Linked DNA regions of Homo sapiens: all the other regions are linked to region 3. A link means that fine-mapping ties the variant in region 3 to the expression of a gene that starts in the linked region. Tissue or cell type: cerebellar hemisphere. Region 3 holds a variant in brackets; each other region holds the start of a gene. All regions are shown on one strand. Distances are between the middles of the regions.

What was found. PIP is the estimated chance that this variant, and not a neighbour inherited with it, causes the effect.
Region 1: it holds the start of BMP3, and the variant in region 3 is fine-mapped to the expression of BMP3 in cerebellar hemisphere (GTEx, PIP above 0.99). The same link has a PIP of 0.9 or more in cerebellum.
Region 2: it holds the start of CFAP299, and the variant in region 3 is fine-mapped to the expression of CFAP299 in cerebellar hemisphere (GTEx, PIP above 0.99). The same link has a PIP of 0.9 or more in cerebellum and fibroblasts.

Annotation. Positions count from the first base shown.
Region 1 is chr4:81,026,562-81,034,928 of GRCh38, forward strand. It overlaps BMP3 (bone morphogenetic protein 3), which reads left to right and starts at 4,147. Exons shown (of 3, transcript NM_001201.5): 1 at 4,147-5,039. The coding sequence starts at 4,724.
Region 2 is chr4:80,331,012-80,339,378 of GRCh38, forward strand. CFAP299 (cilia and flagella associated protein 299) reads left to right here and starts at 4,719. Exons shown (of 6, transcript NM_152770.3): 1 at 4,719-4,868. The coding sequence starts at 4,758. RefSeq lists an enhancer at 4,711-4,860.
Region 3 is chr4:80,282,253-80,290,619 of GRCh38, forward strand. FGF5 (fibroblast growth factor 5) reads left to right here. Exons shown (of 3, transcript NM_004464.4): 3 at 4,073-8,367. The coding sequence ends at 4,420. Among named protein-coding and RNA genes, the nearest start is that of FGF5, 20 kb to the left of the region's middle. The variant G/GAGC (reference allele first, on the strand shown) is at 4,280.

The sequences.
Region 1 (8,367 bases), 740 kb after region 3:
TTTATGTTGCTCAGAGAGAAGGAGAAGGTGAATAGAAGTCTAAGACTTGGAACGTGGATGGCTAAAAGGATAAGAGTGCCAACATAAAGGTTTGGAAACCAAGAATATAATTAAGATGGATGACCAGTTTCATTTTAGATGCACTGAATTTATGATATCAACAGGATAAACACAGTTTATAAAAACTGGGGCGGGGGGAGCTGAAATACTGTAGAGACTTAAGGTTAGAAATACTTGTGGAGTTATTGGTAACTAAATACAAGCATATAACTCAAGTGAGTTAACTAAAGAAATAATGGAGAGAAAGATTGGTATGAATTTGGAAGAGGACCCCAGAAGAAAGACTTCTCCCACCTAAGTGTAGATGATATTCTTTCTCTGTCTGAAATAGCCTATCTAAAATACCCCCGGAAAACCACCTACTTTGCTTTTAAATCTCAGTTCAACTACCATCTCTCCCATGCAGCACTCTCTGCCTTACTCAGCCAGGGGAAAAAAAAATACCTTTAAGTTTTTCAAGTGGTTATTCCTATCTCCCAAGTAGACTAAGTTTTCAGGGGACAGGAAGCATTTCATTTTATCTTTGTATTCTCAACATGAAATTGTCAAGAACACAATAGATACTAAATATGTATTGAGTGAATGAATCAAGGATGGGAGTAATAAAAAAGAGGAAGGAACCAAAACTTCACAACTGCTAATATAGTCTTACATAAGTATTCAATAATAATGGTTGATGGGAAGTTTTTAGAAAATAAATGTATATTACTCAAGAATATCAATAAAGACAAGCATAATACACATACATTCATACATACACACATAGGGTTTTTATAGTCAAAAGTAGAGTTTAATGCAACAGAATCCACTAATCCACTAATCTGCTGTTGTTTTCTGTTTTAGAAATGCTTTCCTTTAACTCTCCTTGTGTTTGGGAAAAAAGATTGATAAGTATCCTCTGATTCAGTAGTTGGCTATAACAGTCACAACCTCTAACATAAAATAGGAAAGACCTATTATTTAAAAATTAAAACAACTCTTAATTAATGCAACACAACAGAGAGATCAAATACAAGGCACGTATACTACCAATATGTTCAATTCAGTTCCTCCTGAAAAGCTGCAAATCCTCCATACATCAAGGAAACCAGATGCTCAGCCAGAAATATGAATCCTATGATTTAAACCATTTGAGTGAAGGCATCTCAAGATGCCAGCATTCTGAAACAATTTAATCCATCCAGAGCTGGGATTCTGCAGCCTTTGATAAAAGAAACACTGTGCTACTGTCTTGAATATCACAAGATGGCATCTCCAGGTGTGCTGATGAGGGAATTGTTTTTTTCCCATTTAATTTGCTTTCAATTCAATTTCCCAAGAAGTCATTCCAAGAGTCTGGGAGGGGTGCCATTTATTTGTCATTGCTGGACATGCTGCTGCTGGCTTCATCCATTTCATCCATTGCTCCCTCTTCCTGGATGTATGTTAGTTGCAAATGAGTTATTATAAGTCCAAAATTTGGTTGCTACTAGTGTTCTCTGGTTTGCTGGCTCCCATATCCATATTCTGTTCTAGTCTGGAATTACAGCTGGGAATCTCTGTTAGGGATTATTCTACTTGCTCATCATCCCCTGTTACTATGATTATTCTGAATGACATGGCTGGTCATTAAAATATAAAGATGGGTATGCCTTGATCTCTGCCTTAGACAAAAACAGACAAGCGATTCTCTTAGGTCTCAGCCGACTCTTTTTAAGCATTTGCTATGTGCTAGGCACTCTGCTAATCTCTTGAAATGGACTATCCAATTATTCTTTACTACAACCCTGTGAGATGGCACTCTTATTTTATGCTTATGGCTTAAATAACAGATTGGAGGTGCAGCAAAGGGAAGGGAGCCATTGTAGACATGCTGTCAGTCTTCAGTATCTATGAATGAAGAATCATGTGGAGTACAGAGTGGCAAATGTTGTGACAGAAATATGCACTGTAGCTAAAGGGAGGGAAGTCTCAAAGATGGTTTCAAAGGGGAAGAGGATGAACTTCTTTGGCAAGGAGGACTGGAGCTGAGGGGGACCCAGAACTATATATTTAAAGGCCAGAGGTGACCACCAAAGCAGAAGAACTGAAAAAGAATTTTCTTCTGGATTTGGCATTTTCCAAGGGCAGAGTAAAGATGTCAGGAACGCTTGAGGCAGGCCTAGAAAGAGGAGGCAGCTGACAGAACTGAGAAAGGGCAGAAAGGAATGGAAAAACAACCAATAGTTCACAGGGAAAAAATCAAAGAGAGAGTTTCCAGGGCCTATTGAATTTTGCAATTAGATCTTCATTATTAATCACAAAAGCTATTATGTTCTTTATGCCAAGCAAAGATCAAACACATGATCTCATTTAATCCTCACAACTACTCTTGAAATATGTGTTATTATCTGCAGAACAGTTCCCGGGGTGGCTAAGGGCAAAATCCAAACCGCAGTGGGTTAAGAAGTGACTGAGTGGGGAGAATGTAGTCTGGATTTGGGATAAATTTAGGATAGAAAGGGATTGAGCCCCTATTAAAGGCTAGTGAGTGCGCCAGTCACTTTAGCACTGCTTTCTAATGTCATCCAAACAAAACTCTAAAAGGAATGTGTTGTTATTCACCATCAAAGAAGAAACTCAGATCTGGAGACATGGTGTGACTCCAGGAGCCTATCTTCTTTTCGATCAACTCCATTGCCCTACAGAGGGGAAGAGGGATAAATGCAATAGACATTGACTGAAGATTTTACTGCATATGGTCAAGAACTGCACTAAACATTTACATGGATTGCACACTGAAACTTCAGTTTAAATGCTAATTTCACTATTAATAGTGTGGTTATCTGGCCTGAGGCCAGAAATCAGACTCCCTGAATTTGGATCTCAGTTCTGTCACTTACTATGTATCCTTTTGCCTCAGTTTCCTCATCTGTAAAATGGGTTTTGCTGTGAAAATTATTTGGTAATATACTTGAAATATAAATAACAAGGCATGTCTAGAGCATAAGTGTGGAGAAAAATGTTAGCTCACAGTTGTTTTTTGTTTGTTTGTTTGTTTTTTGTTTTGAGACAAAGTTTGCTCTGTCACCCAGTCTGGAGTGCAGTGGCACAATCTCGGCTCACTGCAACCTCCATCTCCTGGATTCAAGCCATTCTCTTGCCGCAGCCTTCCCAGTAGCTGGGATTACATGTGCGCACCACCACGCCCAGCTAATTTTTGTATTTTTAGTAGAGATGAGGTTTCACCATGTTGGCAAGGCTGGTCTCGAACTCCTGACTTCGTGATCCACCCGCTTTGGCCTTCCAAAGTGCTGGGATTACAGGCCTGAGCCACTGCGCCAGGCTGCTCATAGTTTAATCTCCATTGTACAGCCATGACAAGAGAGAATTAGGAAGACAAAGCTAGCGACTCTTACATTCTGTTCCGGACTCCGGGATCTTCCACACACCCTTGTTTTTAGCCACCACTGCACCATCCTGCTGGGAAACCTTTTGGGGACCTGTAGGAAGGAAACCTTTGGGGGAAGCTGTAGGTGGGGTTGTGGTGTGTTTGCTTGTTTTCTTATTTGTTTTTAACATGATATTGACTCGCACATATTTCTCACCTCGAGAGAAGATGATGCGGGAGAGAGGGGCGTTATGATGGGTATGCTCTCAGAAAGACAGGAAGCTATGATGACGGGCTGCAGGTGCAGGGGCCCGCAGTGTCCGTCAGAAGAGGCTCGGGAAAGTAAGCGAGAATGGTGTTCACGTTGTGACTTTGTTTGGAATCATAAGACCGAAAAGCCAGGAAGAAGTTCTGTTTTCCTCTGCCCTCTTGCTAGCCACCACACAGCCACTGTTCTTGGAGAATTAAAAAAAAAAACAAACAAAAACAAAACAAAACAAAACAAAAAAACCGTCCCTCCTACCATTTCTTTAGTCCTGAATCTCCTTTTCCCTTCCTCTCCCCAGCCATCCCCACCCCTACTTCCTCTTCTCTCCCTCCCGCTGCCAGTTCTCTGGTTACTCCCCCCCTCCCTTGCTTCTATCCCAGCCTGGTGCAAGCTAAGAGGGCGAGGACGAGGGAGTGGGAGAGATTGGCTGAGGACTCTACAGATCAGCTAGAGAGCGAAAGAACTAAGTCTCTCTCTCTCATACACACACACACACGCACACACGCGCGCGCGCGCGCGCACACACACACACACGTACACTAAAAAACTCGGACCAGCCGCGCCGCAGCTGCTCCAATCCCTGGAAAAGGCAATCGAGCGCCCTCCGGACCGCTGCGCACAGCCCCGGCTCCGACCTGGCGCCCAAAACAGAGCTAGTCCTAGTCCCTCGCGCGGCCAGTTTGGCCGGGTGTTCCCAAAAATAAAGCGAGGAGGGAAGGTACAGACAGATCTTGAAAACACCCGGGCCACACACGCCGCGACCTACAGCTCTTTCTCAGCGTTGGAGTGGAGACGGCGCCCGCAGCGCCCTGCGCGGGTGAGGTCCGCGCAGCTGCTGGGGAAGAGCCCACCTGTCAGGCTGCGCTGGGTCAGCGCAGCAAGTGGGGCTGGCCGCTATCTCGCTGCACCCGGCCGCGTCCCGGGCTCCGTGCGCCCTCGCCCCAGCTGGTTTGGAGTTCAACCCTCGGCTCCGCCGCCGGCTCCTTGCGCCTTCGGAGTGTCCCGCAGCGACGCCGGGAGCCGACGCGCCGCGCGGGTACCTAGCCATGGCTGGGGCGAGCAGGCTGCTCTTTCTGTGGCTGGGCTGCTTCTGCGTGAGCCTGGCGCAGGGAGAGAGACCGAAGCCACCTTTCCCGGAGCTCCGCAAAGCTGTGCCAGGTGACCGCACGGCAGGTGGTGGCCCGGACTCCGAGCTGCAGCCGCAAGACAAGGTCTCTGAACACATGCTGCGGCTCTATGACAGGTACAGCACGGTCCAGGCGGCCCGGACACCGGGCTCCCTGGAGGGAGGCTCGCAGCCCTGGCGCCCTCGGCTCCTGCGCGAAGGCAACACGGTTCGCAGCTTTCGGGCGGCAGCAGCAGGTGAGTGCGCGAGGTGAGACTCCCTTCCCGCGGTCCCGCCCCAGCTTTCTCCCGGGACCCCCCACAGCTTCCTTGTCTGCCCCTTGCTTGGTGGCGCTGCCTAGGGACCTTTCTCCGCCCTCCTCAGCTGCCCTCTGGATTCCTCCGTCCAGTCACACCCCGCGTGTCGCCAGCTGCATCTCCTGTAAGCCCAGTTTTCAAATCCAAAGTGAGAGGGGGAAATAGAATGAAGGCGCGGAGCAGTGGAGGGGTAGGCTGGAGGAGCTTCGTGGAAAAAGGGAAGGGGCGACACCCCATGCCTGTGAGGCCTCCTGCCCTGAGTGACTGGAGCACCTCTAGGGTACCTTATTCTGTTGATTCCTAAATCGGCCAGCGGAAATTCCTTTGGACTGGGCTTTAGCCATGTTTACTAAGAGGCAGATGCCATTTTATGCCAATGCCAGGACCCGAGAGAAATCATACTTGAATAAGACGCCTTCCCCTCTCCTTTTCTCCTTCCCCAGTCGCTTCTCCAGATATTGCACCCGCTCCTAATTCGCGCCCTTTGTGTTACTGTACTATATTTGACACTTTACTTGATAGTTCCTTAGTGGCAAAAAAAAAAAAAAAAAAAAAAAAAACAGGTGCTTGGGTGTTTCGATTATTAAAACGCATCTGGGTAAACAGGGGTTGTACCATCCATCCTGGGAGGAGCTGGGAGACAAGGGGAGGGAGCAACCCTGGATGTAAACACCTCTTGGAATCTGCCCAAGAAAATCTGCTCATCCCATTTTTCAGCACAGATCACTTCGGACTGAAATTCATGGCTTAACAAGGTTTCTCCTAGCCCCTGTGGTGAAGGGAATAACTTATGCTAACAGCCTCCCTCCCTTGTGTTAACAGCTTGAGGGAAAGCTTCCTGGACACTAACTCTGTTTTTATGCTTTGAGGATTCACCAGGCTTTTTTGTTCACTACATTCATGATAAGGGGAAATGTAACTGCAAAGCCTGTCTTCAGTGAACAGTTGAACAATAGCCAAGAATCTTCAAGAAAATGAGGCCATGCCTCAGTCAATACTGTCAGAATCACTAGAAAGAAATCTCCCAAAGTTTTGATATGCAAGACTCCTGGAAAAAGGGAAAACTAAGGCATTCATCAAGGAAAGCCCTGCATTGTCTGTGTAAATATATTCTAGAGCTTACAGGCATGATGACATTTACAATAGATGTGAATTATGCTTCCTAATACAGAAGTCTTTAGCTAGAGACTGAACTGAACCAGATTTTACTTTCTTCTTAAAACCATGAGCATGATCTGTGAGGAGAGCGCCACCAGTAAGGAAAAAGAAACCTGCTCTGTGTTATCCACAGTATCCTAGCCATTGGAGGAGGCTGTCCTGACAGCTGACTACACCAGTGAATACTCTGTTTACTTTAGTGCAACTCTAGGGGCATAACTCAGTGAGTAACTCATGTGGGAGTTGCAAGGATTGAAAGGAAGTTGGGTGAGCTAGGCAGGTGGCAAAAATGAAGGTACTCAAATGACTCTTATCTTGATATTTGTTTTCTTGGTTATATTGCTAGGGAGTAGCTGAGGCCCCTAAGATAAAAAACAATATGTTTGGGATTAACAAGTTTCATTTATAGAATGAACCACATGGTTTGGAGGTAGAATTTGAATTTGTTTCATTCACGTATTGTATAGCTTTTATTTGTTTTAGGCCAAGTTAACCATGGATAAAGATTTTAACAACTCAGGCACCATATTCTTTTTGGCTTCAACTCATTCCTTGCAGTATTCCAGAGTGTGCCTTATCAGCCTCACTGTAGTCTCATAGCATCAAATAATAAACTCTGATATGGAGGCCAGACATTCCCTTGAAACGATGAGTTGCAGCTTGATGCATATATACAAGGCTGTGTGCCCTGATAAGAAAAGTAATCCCTTTAGCATCCTAGAGACTGTCTTAATGACTTATTCATCAAATGTAGACACTGGTTTTTGTGGAAGCTTAAGTGTCATGTTACCTCATTGAGGCTCCTGGTGAGGTGGTTCGTGTTGGGCCCCTTCCAAGAGTGTTTAGTTACTAACACACTAAAAAGACTATTATAAGGCAGTTCTGGCTCTAATAAGGCAGGACTCTAGGAAGGTGCTAAGGTTTTCATGTGTGTCCCTCTCTCGTCATCCATATCAGCATTTCCATAACACCCTTTCACCTTGTGACATATGTTCCCTTGTAGGTGAAAGATGCTGTCTAAATTAATATAGTAGATATGTTTTCCAGTCCAGAGTTTTTAAGTTTTAGAACATATGGGTTTCTCTGTACTGAAGACGTTAGAAATTTTAATGGAAGATCAGGTGGTGTGCTGTGTATGGGGCAGCTGCTGATCCGGCAGCCTCTGAGTGCTTATTCAGGCTGAGTTATAGCTTTAGAGTCCTGTTTGTGCCTTGGTACATACCTGATTAAAATTATTTATTGTTCTAAACCTAGAATATCTTCGATTGAAATTTAGCTGCTGTGGTCTCCCTCTGATTACTTTCTACTTAAACCATTACTTGATGGTGGGTGGCATTCATCCTAAATACACTTTCTGCTAAACCCTTTTCTCCTCCCTGAATGCTATGTAGTTGGTGTGCCAAAACCGTAAGTTTGGAGTGCTTGTAAGTTTTTTTGTCATGTGGAAGGGTTTACATAAAGATAGGTTTTATCTTTCCCTTTGCAAAAGGTAATTCACAAAATCTATTAGTGACAGAGAAGGTCAGCTTCATAAAAATACACCATGTGAAGGAAGACAGAAGGATATGAAATTAGCATTTATTTTGATTTTGGTTTAAGTTGTCTCTGGCTACTATATGATAAAGAAGAATATTTTACATGAATTTTTCTTCTGTCTTGATCTTTTAAGATACTTTAGGATCATCACTTTCTCATGACTCCCATAGTCACTTAATCTTCCTTTTCTTAATGACAAATATAATCTCTTTAGGAAAAACAATTAAAGCACACATGTTGTTAGGAAACTTTCACTATTCATGACATGCACCCACCAAAATAGCACATTTTAGTGAGTACTTATCACCTTTTAAAAAATCTCACATACTTCATAGATTTAAAAAAATAACTGAGGCAATCCAGCCCCACAAGTGAATATTTTCCTGCAATGAGGAAGAGGAGATTCTTTCCTCCTATGACCAAAGTACTTTTAAGATAAGTAATTATAATATTGAAATGTTTCTGAAGTATAAGGCTAAAATATAAGGCTTCGGCAAAGATAGTATATAACTAAGTGTTGAATGATCATCCCAATAGGAGCCATTCCTTCAAAATATATGGAACCAGTGGGAAA
Region 2 (8,367 bases), 49 kb after region 3:
ATTGCAACAAATGATAAGTGCATTAGAAAGTGCTCTGGGAACACAGGAGACTACTATATCTTGATCTCTATACCGAGATCTATAATAGGGAGCTAATAGGTAAATGGAAAAAGTGTGTACTGTGAAAGAATGTCCTAGGCAGAGGGAACAGCATGTTTGAGACCCAGCAGCAAAAGAAGTGGAGGCTCCTTTCAAAACTGAAAAAAGTCTGGTGTGGCTGGAACATGTAACGTGTGCAGTAGAGGGTATCAGATGAAGGTCAGGATGTGGAATGTCTTGTAAGCCATGTCAAAAAGACAAAACAAAACTGTACTTTATCCTAAGGGTAATGGGGAGCCAAAGAAGGTTTTTAAAAGAGGCCTGGTGAGATCCGTGTTTTTAAGCAAACACTAACTACATTTTGAAGAGTGGAATGGAAAGAGGCCAGAAGAGTATAGGGAAACCAGAAAAGATTATATTCTTGGAGTTTAGGTACCAGACTTTGGCTTAGGCAAGGAACCCATGTCAATTAGGTTGGAGAGAAATTTAAGCCTTCAAGAGAAGTAATTGAGAGGTGGAAATAACAGGCCTTACATTTCAGGGGTGACGGAGAAGTAAGGTTCAAGACTGTCTTCCATGTTTCTCACATGAACAACTGAGAGGAGAGGAACCTGTGTGTTGAAAGAGGGAACACTGGAGGAGGAACAAATTAGGAGGCACAAAAAGAGGAAAATTTTCATTTATACATGTTATACATCCAGTGGCATCTGCTAGGCAGTTAGATATGTGATTGGAAGAGTGACCTAGTTAATTATATAGATAGAGGAACCATATGCATGTAAGGCAGTAAGTAAAGCAATAAGTGTGGGTGAGAGCTCCAAGTAACAAAAGTGTAGAGTCAGCAAAGGGTCTAGGAGAGAACCCTGAGACTCTCCAATCTTTTAAAAGCTAGGTAAGGAGAAAAGGGGCTAGCAAAGAGAACTGAGAAGAAACAGCTAATGGAAAACCAACGAACCAACCAAACAACCAACTAACCAACCTCAGTGCAAAGTAATGTGACAGAAGCTAAAAGAGAATCTCGAAGAGAAGAGAGTGGTCACAGGGTCAAATGCTGCTAAATGTCAAGCAGTCTGAGGACAGAAAAAATGTCTATTGGGCCTAATGGCAAAGATGTCATAATTGACTTTGGTGAAAATCGTGGAGCAGTGCGTAAAAACAGACTGGAATATGTTGGGCAGAAAGTGGAAGGTAAGGAAATGGAGACAGTGATTGTAGACAGCTCTTTCCAAAAGTTTTGCTGTAAAGGGCAGGAAAGCCTATAGCTAACATTGTCTGTGGAGGTGAGGGTGATTTTTGGGATCATTTGCTTATTTTTAAAATGGGAAAGGAGCTGGGGTGGGGAGGGAGAGAAGAGATAAATTAACAACAAAGAAGAGAGGGAATAATTAAAATGAGAAACCCTGGGAAGACAGAAGGAGATTGAACCTGTGTAGTGAAGGTATGGAAGGAGGTAAATCTCTTCCTTTACACAATGGAAGAAGTAAAACGTTGATATGAATGTGAATAAGCTTGTATACAGCATTTGACTGTGGGAAATCTATTGTGATAACTTACTTCTTTTGGGTATAAGAGTTAAGTTTATCTGCTTTGAGAAAGGATGATATAAGATTAAGGAGAGAGGAGAAAGTGGAAAAAGCCATAGTAGAAGGTAAGAGTGAACTGAAGAAAAAGATAACATAGATTGTAGGGCAATGCTGGGCACCTGCTTGCAACTGGCAGCTCCACATTTATTGTGGTGGCCGTCTATTCACAGGTGCTATGTTCTGATTGTTTGCCCACTCAGGGGGAGTGGAGTTTTAGGGTAGAGGCTGATTTCCATGTAGCCAAAAAGCTTGAGGGAATTTTCAGTGAGGTTTTTGGTAATGCCTTATAGAGCCACAGAGAGCCCAAGTTTTTCTCTGTTCCAAAGTGGTGGTTGTGGTGATCATACCCATCATCTATCCCATAGCACAGTAGTAGTTTTCAATCTTTATTAGCTGCAGACATCTGTCAACCCCAGTCCTGGGAGGAATTCCATCTTATACTTGTATTTCTCTCTTCTGAAATTTTCCTTTCACACTGTCAATGACAAGGCAGGAGCAAACTCCCGGATTATGACACATGAACACATTGTGTCTCCAGGACAGAGAAGCAGTGGAACCAGAACTCCAGCATCCTAGAATAACTGAGACTGTGAGGAAGTCCAGCGATCTCATCACGAGAAATAGCTCAAGTAAATTTAGTATCACCATTGTTTCTAAGTGCAAAAAAGCTCTCCTTGGCTGATGATTAAGCAATAGCCCTCATCTGCAGTCATAGTTAACAAGCAGCTAGGCAACACCAGACACAAATCTCTTGTCCTATTAGAGTAAGTATATGTTTTTTTCCTACAATATGATAACATATTAATAGAACGTCTTAATAGATCCTCAAGTTCTTATTAACATAAGCAAAACATTCCCTTCCTGTCATGTCAACAAACCAAAGTATGTTTTCCTTTCACTGTGTCAGCTATCATAGTATATTGCCAAATATTTTGGAATATAAAAGTGTAGAGCTTAATTTGAAACTTTTTAATATACTTCCACCAAGTAAGTACCTTAAATCTGGCATATATTTTGTTATTCTTACATAACATATGTTTCCTCTTTCCTACATCTTGGGGTTTTATTATGAATATACTAATCCTTCTTTGTCCTTTTGCAAAGAATGGAATTTCTGGGATCGGTGCTAAATTCCAGGTTTCAGTCTTTAAAAATCTTGGACTTGAAGTAGGAATGCATGTTATCCAAAATAAAGTATTTCTTGATCATAACAAAAGCCTTGCAATGAAAAGAGAAGCTTGCCGAAACTTACTAATTTCTTTGTTGCCACCCTTTCATTTCTCAGGCACAGGTCTGAAAGTGGTTCTGAAGTTAAATTGAAAGTTTAGAAAAGGACAATTGAGTTATACGCACTATTAATTCTAGCCTTACTGTGAGGAACAAGGATAAGTTTATGAATTTTCTTGATATTAATAGAGAAGCTGATTTGCTGAAAATCAGCCTCAGTGTTTTGAGTTAGAAGACATTTCTAGACTCATTGACTGAAAATAATTTCATGATTGTTTAAATTTAGATGCTGTAGAGATTACTTCATCAAAGAGATGTTGACCAAATGGCAAATTTAATGAGGTTTCTCTAAAAAATGCACAATCACAATTGATATAATAGAACAATATATAGCCAAACCATGACCTCACATTTTACTAACATATAGGTCCTTTTCATTAAAGTGCTCTAGTTTAATAAACCCAAACATTCTCTAGATGCTTTACTGTTTCTTAAAAGTGATGAAATCTTGATATAGGAGGATTCTTCTGCCTCAGCTTCCTGAGTAGCTGGGATTACAGGCGCCCACCATCATGCCTAGCTAATTTTTGTAATTTTAGTAGAGACGGAATTTCACCATGTTGGCCAGTCTGGTCTTGAACTCCTGACCTCGTGATCCACCCACCTCGGCCTCCCAAAGTGCTGGGAGTCACTGTACCTGGCCTATTATTACTTTTGATGGGTTACCAGTGTCCAAGGTTTTATCTCCTTTTTGTTTTCCCAAATTCAATAATTAAATTGCATTCAAAAATAAGGCCCAAAATATCTTTAAAAACATGTCAGAATACATTCATTAAACAAACAAAAAAACAAGTTAGTAGCATCCTAAATATTGTGTCTATATCACTTAAAATTTGCAAGTCATGACATCCTAATTTTTAAGATGAACTTTTTAAATTAGGAAAGCTAACTGAAATGAAGTATCTTACCAGATGTTTTCATTAAAATTTTGTTAGCAAATCTGTGAAAATCTTCAAGATGAATTAGAAACGTACTTACAGAGCAACAATTAAAGGCTTAGCATTGTATTATATGCTAATTCCCAAGGATGGTTTGTAAAATATTAAAATCCAAAGATTGGTTCTGAACATATTTTGCCAGCTGTTGTGTTGGATTACTTTAAATTCATATTTTAAAAACACAATACTGTTCTGAAGAAAACAAAAAATCTTTAGTGAAAGACTTTATTTAATAAGATTTCACAGATATTTTATTCTTTAAAAAGGGCAGCTTCAACACAGCAAAATTTTTCACTGTGCTAAAATAGTAAAATAAGTGCAAGAACTTGGTGCCAAAAAAGGTCTGCAAAGACATTTTTTTGACTGAGTTTCTTTCCTTTGGGAATTTCATAAATTGCTTCTTGTACACAAACATTAGCAATAATTTACCTTTGTTATAACTTTAAAAATAATTTAACAAAATCATTATTTTATTATTGTCGTTGTCACAACACCATTTGATATACTTGTTTTTGAGACAGTCTTTTTGCAAAATGTCTCGGTATTTTTGTCTTGCATAACATTGTTTTAGAATGCAATTGGGAGCTAATTCCTAATATTTTGTCTAAGTATGTAGGCAGTGTCATACTTTTTAACTTTGGATTGCAGTTTGCACCTCTCTGGTTGCTCAACAGTTCACTGAAGCCTGAGTCGGTGGATGGGTATCCGACCTGAACTTGGGTGGGTAATTCCAGAAAGTTTTCACAGGAGTGAGGCAGAAGACAGAAACTGCAACAAACCGCCGGGGGGTGGGATTAACGTCCAAAGCTCACACCGGCTTCAACTGATTGGCAGGAACGAAGTGGGTGGAGCCTCCTGACCCTGCCCTCCTGCTTCCGTTGCTAGGGACGCTTCGGCCGAGGATACCGCAATGGATCAGGAAGAGGGGCTGAAGGCCTTGGACAATATTGTCACTCAATTCAACGCCTATGAAGATTTCCTGGACTCGCAGATCACTACTGTGGACTTGTACTACCTGGAGGTAAGGGCGGAGCGCGGCAGAGTAGCCGCCGCCGCGCGTCCCTCGGTCCCTCCTCGAGTTCCCGCTTCGTGGGCTGGTCGCCCCCTGGCGCTGGACAGCTCAGCTGTCAGGCGCCGCGGTTTCGGGACCGCGACACTAAAGCCGCTGGCGAGGTGAATTGCCGCGTCCTTACCGCCCCGCGCTCCCCGGTCCGGACAGAACTTGGGCCCCTAGAGTCACCCAGCGCAGAAACGCGCGGGCACACTCACACTGGGGAGCCATGAATTTGTGCTTCTTGGCCTCCCCTGCCTCCTCCCAGCCCACTCCCATTCCAAAGCCGCTCTCTGTGAGGAAGGAGGTCTGCTGAGAAGTCTCCGGCTGTGATCTAGGACAGACACCTGTTTCTCTCTGCTTTGCCAATTGGTATATTAAAGAACAGAAGATGGCATCTTTACACCAACCTAGTGTATTTGGTGTTATATTGGGCGTTTGGGTTCATGAACTTCCACCTCACACTAATTGATTCTGAAAGTACTTTAATTACAGAGACGCATTACAGGTAGTTGTGCAGACATATTCCTGATTCAAGTTTATCGAGTTGATGATCACAACTAACTTTGATAGTAAAAATATACACACAAAAAAGGAGCGAAACTGGACCTAATGGGTTGCTTTCCTCTGCCCAACAGCCAATCCCCTCCCCAGCTACCCCCGCTGCAGGGTGGTGGGGGACAGAGTGGAGTTCTTGTCCTGTGCCACGGGAGAACCCGGACGCGCAGGAATTAACAAGTCATCAGTGCTAGGAAGCTGGGAGGCGGACGATGGCTCCTAAAGTCCCAGTATATTCCTAGCCAAACTTCCCGGATAGGCCCACTGAATGGACACTCACCTGGAGAGTCGGCCGTGCTCTCCACAGGACCCAGAAATGCCTTATCCCTATTTAGGCCAGAGAGAACAGGCGCCACTATGTGGTGAAAAGCCACATCAGTCTGGGAAGGATTTGCATCCTGCCACCAGCTCCCCACACTTCTGAACTGCAACAAGGTAACTGCATTTTAGTGGATTGACACTTTTGGACTTCAAAGATTGGTTACAGAGGCATTTCACTTAAATATGGATTACAGGTTTCAAAAGTGTTATTCTTCAGTACATTTAAAAAATAAATGTAGGTGGTATTTCCAATATAGCTCCTGGCTTCAAAAGCAAAATTTTAAAACATTATACAGATAATATATTTAAAGTCATAAAAGTCAGTTTATGCCTTGCATCCAAGACACTGAAAAAGTAATGCTGCTAAACAATGTTTACATCTAAATTTTTGAATGTTTAAATAAACAAAAAATGAAATATACGCTATAAACATCTTGATAGACTAAAATCATCTTTGTAGCATATGTGGAAGATTGGCAAATTTAAACCTAGTATTATTAAGAAAGGTTTTAATATTTTTTAAGGCACAGTTCTTCATGTGAGTATGGACCTAAAACATTAATATTAATTACAGATGTGAAATTAATAATTTGTGTTTCATCAATCAGAATTTTTTTTTTTTTTTTTGAGATAGAGTTTCACTCTGTGGCCCAGGCCAGAGTGCAGTGGCCCCATCTCGGCTCACTGCAACCTCCGCTCCCCAGGTTCAAGTGATTCTCTTGCCTCAGCCTCCCAAGTTTCTGGGATTACAGGTCTGCACCACCATACCCAGCTAATTTTTGTATTTTTAGCAGAGACAGGGTTTCACCATGTTGGCCAGGCTGGTCTCGAACTCCTGACCTCAAGTGATCCACCGGCCTCAGCCTCCCAAAGTGCTGGAATTACAGGTGTGAGCCACCACACCCAGCCCATCAATCAGAATTCATTAAAGGTTTCCAAAATGGAAGGTGGTAATTATATTTGGGGAAATGACAAAGAAATTTACTTTTATATTTGGCATTGATTAAGCTTATTTTTGTTGTACTTTCATAAAAAGTAAGATGAAGATTTAGTTGAATAATGATAATTAGACAGGTATATATATGTTTACATATATATGTATATATTTGGATTGATTAGTGACAACTTTTAAAGTGCTATTATTTCTAGAGATCTACATTCTCAAATACTTTCTGTGGATGTAAGTTCATTGTGCACTTAGGTCACACAGAAACAAGTAGACTCCTCAGCATTCTTTCAGTAGTATGGCAAGCATGTTTCACAAATCATGGATCATGCTAAGTGAGCTGATACTTGTGCTTTTCCTCTCTCTCTCTCTCACACACATCATCATCATCAGTAACTGACTTTGATTTGAATGGAACAACTTTTAAAACATTTTATTTTAACTAACAAAATTGTCGATATTTATCATATACAACATGATGTTTTAAATTATATATATTGTGGAATGGCTAAATCAAGTTAACATATGTATTACCTCACATAATTATCATTTTTTTGTGGTGAGAACACTTAAAAATCTATTTTCTTGACATTTTAAAAGAACATAATATATTGTTATTAACTGTAGTCACAATGTTATACAAGAGATCTCTTGAATTTATTTGAATGAAACAAATTGTAAACTGTAAATTAGAGGTAGCATGTTTAGTTAGAAGAGGCTAGAGTCACAAGATTTTTTTTTGGTTCTAACTCTGCAATATTGTGTTTTTAATCAACTTGAAATTCCATTTTTTACCTACAAAATGAAACAGTTGGACTAGATTATTCAAGTTTCCTAAAGTATATAAAATGTTATGAGTTATCTATACTTTCATCTGATTATCTGTACACCCATGTATTTATCCAGCCACCTTTTTAGTCGATAATCCTTCACCAAGCGCCTGATGTAGTGGATATTGCCTACACTGCTAAGAGTTTAAGTAAGAATCTATTCTAGACTTGACCTCAGAAACCTAAGTATATAATGCTTACAGTCCGGTCTAAGTTTTATTTATTCAGCAAGCATTTTACAAACATTTACTATCTTCCAGGTACTCTTGTATTGTGTAGTATATTCTGCTCCCAAAAGTTTTCAGTTAATCTGCATAAAAAGTTAGTACCAATGATTGACATACAAATAATCATATAATCTGTGCCAGATCCATTCTGTGCCCCTGGACAATGACCTTCACAGTCATTAATCAGGAGCTTTTGGCTTTGGGTTGGTTTCAGCCAATAGGAGGTACCAACTGGAGTGCAGGGGGCTGGAAGGAAGTGGTTAGATAATTTATTCCCTGCCATCTTCCTACTGTCTGTGGTTTAGAAGCAGCTACCTTCCTTAGGTTTGGCCATCTTCTCATTCCATTAGCTATAGCACTCTCTCCAGGGTCTGGCAGCACTCCCTGCTCTAGGAATTGCTTCCTCCCTTATCTTCTTTTATGCCAAATGGTGTTAATGGCTTCCCACTGTTGCTAACCCAAGGATGCTTCACGATCCCATGTTGGTTTCCATTAATTTTGCCCGTATCTTTGTAAATAGTGCTTTTATTCTTTTTGGTCGTGAGTTTGCCAACAATTTGCTGCCATTACCCTGACCACAATATAAT
Region 3 (8,367 bases):
TACCCAGCAGAAAGTTCTTATTTCTCTTAATAGTAGTGTGTTTCCTCTCCTTGTAATAATCTGGATATTCAAGAAAAAATAGTTCGATTTGTTTAAAGTTCTTTTTTTTTTGTCAATTAGGAGTATATACTAAAGTACAAAAAACGCTGATTTTAAACATTTCATTTTAATTTTGCAATTATGGTTTGTTGAATGTAACCTGTTATTATTCTTGCCAGATCAAGGAGAAATTAAAGAGATTTTAATGTAATTTAAGTCAACAAAAACATGGGCAGGACCATGTTAATACTGTTTTCCACTGTAAAAGTGGCACCTAGCACAGTGCCTGGCATGTGATATCTGTGGAATAAATTAGTGAAAAATGAATATGAAACTTTTTAAACAAATATTTAAACAATTGCTTTCATTGTAGTGGCTGATGGTGGTAAGGCAATTAGATGAAGGAGTCTTGATTTCAGCAACTTATCTGAAATTTGATTCATCTCTCTACTTCATACTCTTTAACTATAGAAAAAGTCTGTTAATTTCAGGGGTTTTTTTTCTAGAAAAATAATGGAGTTCTATCATTTTAAAAGTGTATATTTTATTAGAAGACTTATAATTTAAAAAAAAGATTTAAAAAATAAAAATCAGCCTGGAAAATTTATTGTCCAAAATTTTCTAATGGTAAATGTATGTATTTTAGTACCTCTAGCTAAGACCTATGACTCTTTGCTATAAAGATGGTCCATGCACAACATTATGTATAGAGATATACTGCTTAGGGTCACCATCTTGTCTGAGCCAGACCGGGAATACTAACAGGAATAGTCAATCCTTCAAGATGAGTAAATTCACTGAAATGTTTGTTTCAAATGATTCTGTGTTCCATCACAGCTGGAATAATTTTTCAGACAAAACATTAAATTAAAAGTTAATTAAGAAAGCCAAAACAGTCTAACTGCGTTTACTCCCGTATTAATGTAGAATGTAGGATTTGGATGGCTGAGGGGCTGTGTGTACTGTGTAGATCCTTAGAACTCTACACACTTCTACCCTGGGTAACAGTTAGGTGACCTTTGAAAAATCTGAAGTCCAAATAGCCATCTCCATAAAGGGCTCCTCTTAAGAAAGAACTTTAGAATATGAATCTCGAGGAAAAGAGGAGGAAAAGAGAAAGATTTTAGATGAAACAATTGTAGGGGGTGGGGCAGGTGGGTTTCACTCATATGAAAGATCCTAAAATGGAAATGATATAGATTCCTGTTTTAAAAAAAGAAATGCTGTGGTGTGTGTCTGCACATGCACCTGTGCATGAGTGTGTGTGTGCCTGTCATCTACATTAGTTAAAAATGACATGTTCTTTCTTTATTTTCTTGGGCACTGTTGGGGGAAAATATTAAATAATGTAGTACATTGTAAAAACCTAACTCTGTCAAAATTGAGTAAAGCAATCACCGCTGTTTTTGTGAAACAGAGCTGGAAGTCAGATCAAGGCATAATGTATTACACATTTTCAAAAATGTCATTCAACTGCATTTTAAGAAAAAAAAAACCCGAGACAAGATAAATATACCTGATACTCTTTTTAATGAAATGTTTCACACCTTTGTAAAATTCTTGTGATCTGTTTATAGAGCCAGAAACATTCTAGATGTCTATAGCTTTTATTTTGAAATAAAATGTTGGGATTATCTAATTAAATGGGAAAACCATTTTAAGAGCTAAGCAGCTGTAGACAAATCTACAATGAATTTGTAAGCAAGTCTTTCTAATAAAAAATAGGAATAGTCAATGTGTGGTCTTCGAAAGTGATGTCAGCATAGCAGTCCGGGCCTAAATGCAGGCTGGCAAGGTGTATCGTAGACAGGGTGAAAGGGATGCCATACATAGGTGGTGATTGTTTATAATACCTGCCTTCGGCCGGGTGCGGTGGCTCACACCTGAATCCCAGCACTTTGGGAGGCCGAGGCAGGCAGATTATCTGAGGTCAGGAATTCGAGACAAGCCTGGCCAATATGGTGAAACCCCGTCTCTACTAAAAATACAAAAATTAGCTGGGCATGGTGGCACACACCTGTAATCCCAGCTACTCAGGAGGCTGAAGCAGGAGAATTGCTTGAGCCTGGGAGATGGAGGTTGCAGTGAGCCAAGATAATGCCACTGCACTCCAGCCTGGCCAACAGAGCAAGAACCTGTCTCAAAAACAACAACAATAACAAAACAACAACAACAACAACAACAAAGAAACAAACAAAAAATACTTGCCTTCAGCCTGCTCGAGATCATATCCAGAGATTCACCAGTAGACTTGTGGAAGATCTACATATATGGCTTCATAACCTGCCAATGGAACTTTGTTGATTGAACTACACTTAAATATAAGTAACTCCAGTAAACTATTGTACATAAAGTGAATGTGCTGTTGGAAATGCTCTGATATTGGTTGGCTTCTACTACTGTCAGTAACCTGCACTGCTCAGAAACTCCATGTGGACTTCAACAGTGGATCTATGTAGATTGCCTTGCAATATTCAGATTTTTAGATTTCTGTGTTATGATCAGTATTTCAAAGAAAAGTTTGGCATTATTAGAAAAAACAAGGAAAAAAAGGCCATTTTATTCCCGTATAAAACTTCTTGGTTTGATATAGAAGTATGTAGCTTTTAGTGTTTTTATATATAGGGGACAAAATATTTGGTATTCTCAAACACGGGAATTCTGTGTAAATAGTACTCCTTGAAATTATGAAACCTGGTAGTCTTAACTAGTACAGGAATTCTTAATTCTTTGGGGGTTATGGGCTCTTTCAAGTTTGATGAAAGCTACAGAATCCTCCTTTGGATTCTCATAACAGCCCTATTGTTGTAAGTGTTATGGATAAGGAGGCTAAGGCTAAGAGCTTAATTGGCAGAACTGGTTTTTGATTGCATGTCTGACTCCAAGTTCACACTCTTCCCCCATTCTCCCACATATTCCTTCAAATTTTACTACATGGCAAACTAAGCTCTTTCAGAGCTGGTGCTGACCTACATTGTCTGGCTCATCTCCTTACTTCCCACATGCATCCTAGGTAGAGGTCACGCTGAACTACTTACAGGTATTTGAAAGTGTCATGTTGACCTTTCAACACCCTGTTCCTTCTCCCTGAAAATCCTTTCTTATTTTGCCTTCCTCTCTAATGCTAGTTAGAGAACATTCCTAGTTGTACTTGAAGACTCAGCTCAAATGTCACCTTTTATAGGAAGACTTTTCTGCCCTCTTCTTGGCCACCTCCACCCTCTTAGATGCCCTTCCTCTATGCTGTCATTGTACCCTCTGCATACCGCTGTCATAATTCCATTTATCAAGCTGCACCATGACGGATGTCTACTTGTCTGCTTTTCCACTATTCTGTAAGCATTTCAAGGGCAGATATTTTGTGTGTGTGTAAGATCTGGCCAAAGTGTAGTTAGTAACTCGAGTGACTTTTTTCTTCTTGGAGTTAGATATACTTTCCTGTAATGCCTGAGTAAAGATACGTTATTTTTTTCTAAAGAACTCTAACACGTGCAATATTAATGGGGGCCATATGCTACTTCTCTCTCAGCAGCCTCAATCACACTGATAACATTGAAAAAATGCAAGCTTGTTTCAAAGGAATAATTTTGACCTCATTTCTGTGAACAGGAATTTATATTTTACCAGGCAATCATTTCTTAGTAATATAGTTCCATTTATTTTCTTAGTGAGTTAGGAGGAAAAACAGTATGTAAAAAGATTTGTAACTATACATTTCAAAGTATTTAAACAATAGTAACAGGGTTTAAATGTATCAAGAGTTCTGGTTACTTTTATAGTCATCGATATTATGTCACCAAGTAAGTAGGGAACAGAAATGTGTTACAAAGATAAATGAAGTAGAAATATAGAAAGAAAAATAGTAATTTTAAAGCAACTTTAAAATAAGCAAACATGTCTTTATAAAAAGGAATTGAGTAGGAGGAACAGAGATCAACAAAATTATTGTTTTTTTTTCTACAATACCTTATGTTTTATTACATGCTGAAAAGATCGCCACAACTTAAATTTCCTCTTTTTTTCTCCTCCTTAGGCCAAGTTCACAGATGACTGCAAGTTCAGGGAGCGTTTTCAAGAAAATAGCTATAATACCTATGCCTCAGCAATACATAGAACTGAAAAAACAGGGCGGGAGTGGTATGTGGCCCTGAATAAAAGAGGAAAAGCCAAACGAGGGTGCAGCCCCCGGGTTAAACCCCAGCATATCTCTACCCATTTTCTGCCAAGATTCAAGCAGTCG[G/GAGC]AGCAGCCAGAACTTTCTTTCACGGTTACTGTTCCTGAAAAGAAAAAGCCACCTAGCCCTATCAAGCCAAAGATTCCCCTTTCTGCACCTCGGAAAAATACCAACTCAGTGAAATACAGACTCAAGTTTCGCTTTGGATAATATTCCTCTTGGCCTTGTGAGAAACCATTCTTTCCCCTCAGGAGTTTCTATAGGTGTCTTCAGAGTTCTGAAGAAAAATTACTGGACACAGCTTCAGCTATACTTACACTGTATTGAAGTCACGTCATTTGTTTCAATGTGACTGAAACAAAATGTTTTTTGATAGGAAGGAAACTGGAATTCTTTGTACTAATACAGGGAGCACACTCCTTCAGTTCAGCAAGACATAAAGCCTTTTGCTTTATGCTTGAGGGATATTTAGAACTTTGTATTTTCGGAAAGTTAAATAACAGGGACTACGTATTTTTCTGACTTTTACAGATTAACCTGAAAGAACATACATGATACATTTTTATTTTTGGTTTCCAAAGAATATTTTGATGCAGATAAAATATTTTGTTAACTTTTGTTTTTTTTTGTTTGTTTTCTTAAAAGTACCTCTGCATTGAGCATATTTTCTTACTTTTATTATTTTAATTAATATGACATAAGCAATCATTTTATGCTGTTTATGAATTATAAATGTGTTTATAGCTCATTTGTAATATGGAAATCTTTTACATTTTTCCTATTCACTGCACTTTTTTATTGTTTTTATTTCTAGCCATACCTCAGATAATATGTTTAGTTTTACATTTTAAAATGTTTAAATTCTCTTTCACAGCACCAAAGGCTCAGCTTGGATTTGTGTGTATGTGTATGTCAATTCATGACATTATGTGGAATCCTAAACCTTTGGTGGCTGGGATATGATGGGTTAGAAGCAAGGAGAAAATATAAGGACTTTTTGATGGAATTAAATGTGGGAGGTAAGGAAAAGGATTTAGAGGTAAAAGTACACTAAGTTTGCAACATTTATTGAGATCTAAGTCTGTCTTGCCTTCATTTCTCTTTTTATCTCCCCCTTGCCCTCATTCTTGAACAGCTGGAGGAATACATTTTATTCTGTCCATGAAGCATACACTATGAAATTCAAGTGCTTAAAAATACTTCTATGACTCTCTGCTATCCCACTGTATAGATCCACAGGGAGCAAACACTTAGAAATGATAGAGAACTGAAGGAGATCAATGGTTTAACAGTTATCCATGCCAAGTCCCATTGTCAGAAATATTCTTATTACTCAGTCAAACACTCTTTGAGCTTCCCTTCCTAAAGGTAACCAATCCAGTGAATAGATGTGCCCTTTTATAAGGAAACTTCTGATGTTTATTAAAAAAACTGGCCTTTTGATAGAGGTAACTTAATTTGGGAATTTGTTGTGTTGAAATGGCATTTAATTTCAACCTAAATACTGACTGCTGGACATAAATCACAGAAAATTTAACTTAAGAAAATTTACAAAATTTATTCTCAGGTAATCATTTTAATAAAGTTCTGCAAAATACACGTTTATCTTACATTCAGAAATGTGGCAAAAAAGGCATAGCTAAAGGCTAAACATATGGCTTTAGTAGTAACAAAAGGGTTCATAGAAACTTCATGGTTTGCATTTAAACATGTTTAAAGTGTACTTATAAACTATTTTTTTCTTAAAGCAAACTATGATTTATTTTGGTGCACAAATACAAAGTGGAAACTTACCAAAATTGAACTAGCTACCATATAAGCAGATTGCTTTAATTTGATGGGAAAATAGTACACACATATATATAACAAATAATATATTAAAAAACCCATCCATCAACTAAAACATTATATGTATACATCAGTATAGTGTTTTATTATAAAGCCAATTATCTGATTAAGCATTCTTTCCACTGAATGCATAATGTTTAAATAGCATAAAATGAAATGCTACAAAAATTGAACTAATTTATACTTTAAAGTATTTCTGGGTTAAATGAAACAATGAAATTTTTTAGTATGTTCAACTCTCATCCAAATGGCATATGACCCTGTTTACACAGCCTAAAGCTAAAAATATTACTCTAGTTTATTCTAATCTATTGTTAAGTATTGTGCACTGTATACCAAGTTCTTAGGGCACATGAAAAATTTTAGCTGCCAAACAGGAACTAGTAAACATATGTTCCTAATAAGTGAAGGGAAAGATAATAATGATGGTCAACAATAAGCCACGTCAATGCATAAGTTGTATAGGCTAAATGTTGCTTGTAGGCTACATTAAACTCAAATGTAATAGTTTATCTTATACTCCTGGTTTGATTTGATTAGCATATTAACGTGAAAGTAGGATAGCTACTAAATATATATTATGCAAGTCAGGAATCATTAATTTCAAAATTTAAAGCCATGCTAAAATTAAAAAGAAAATATTAAATTACACAATTACACTTGTCTTTACTGGCCATACAAAATGATTTTTTTTTTTTTTTTGAGACAGAGTCTTGCTCTGTCACCAGGCTGGAGTGCAGTGGCATGATCTCGGCTCACTGCAACCTCCAACTCCCTGGTTTAAGGGATTCTCCTGCCTCAGCCTCCCAAGTAGCTGGGATTACAGACTCATGCCACCACGCCAGCTAATTTTTGTATTTTTAGTAGAGACGGGGTTTCACCATGTTGGTCAGGATGGTCTCAATCCTGGCCTCTTGATAGTCCTGACCTCATGATCTGCCCACCTCGGCCTCCCCAAAGTGCTGGGATTACAGGTACAATGATGTATAATTAATGCTTAGTGAAGCATAAAGTTACCTACATCAATTAATTAAATGAACTTATGTACAGAAAACATGTATAAATATAAGTCTATACTAATGCTTACAACTTTCTAAGAGGGTTCTTGCTTATGTAGCTTTTTATTATTTTAAGTAACTAGAACCACCAAATATCAAATAAAATTATTTGGTTATGGTTATGTTCATCTAAACACAACAATAACTTTTATATTAATATTTAGGAGTCTATTTTGTCTATAGGTGACAAACATCTCCAGACTAACATGTCAGTTTTATCAATTATATTATGTTTAATTATTTAAGATTTCTTTATGTGGAACATCTATAGAGATAAATAGAAATTTTCAATAAGATGTAGTAACACTGTGATTTATCTTTCAAGAGTCTCTCTTCACTTCCTTCTAAAGAGACTAATTTGAGAGTACAGGTGCATATTAATTTTCTTGGTTCTTTCAGCTGAATTATATTGGTCCAGAAGTTCAAAATCATGTGACAATAATAAGGGATACTGACAGAAGTTATTTCCAAGTTTGTGTATATATTATAAAAATTACATATATAAAACTAAGGCTTTTATTTCTGTTATTTTTAAGCTTTTATTTCTTGTAGCTAAAAATAAAACATCATAAATCTGGTAGGTAAATTTCTTATTAAATCAATCTTGAAATAGAAAATGTAATAACTTTCTTACCATTAACATTTTTTACCCTTCCATAGAAGGGAGGGAATAAATCATGACTTATCCCATTTTCAATAACAAAACGAAACTATGGCACTAACCAAAAACTTGCATTCTGGCATAATTTTTACAGTTGCAGAGAATTGTTTCTGGGCTCATTAAAAAAAGTAGTATTGCAGACATTGCTGCAATGGGAAGCAGACAATAACTTCTTAAAGGAATTCTACACCTCCTTTAAGATTTACTTAATTGCTACATCTAAATTCTGATAATTTAAAATCCATTTTAGGTGATAAAATTTTTTAAAAGTTTTGAAGGAAACCTCTGGATAAATGGACAAGGCCTAATTTTTTTTTGTAGTCAATCCAACTGTACTGGCCAATTTTTGAAATAAGATTATATGATTAGGTATTAGCAGAGACAAAGAGTTACCTCCTCCATCTTACTCTGCCCTATTTGAAAGTCTCAGGGGAGAAAAGGGAACAAGATGCTGATCCAACCTGAGTGGAGTCAGGTGAGGCATCTTTACATCTAAGAATTTTTTTTTAAATTTTATTATTATTATACTTCAAGTTCTAGGGTACATGTCCACAATGCACATGTCTGTCACACATGCACACATGTGCCAT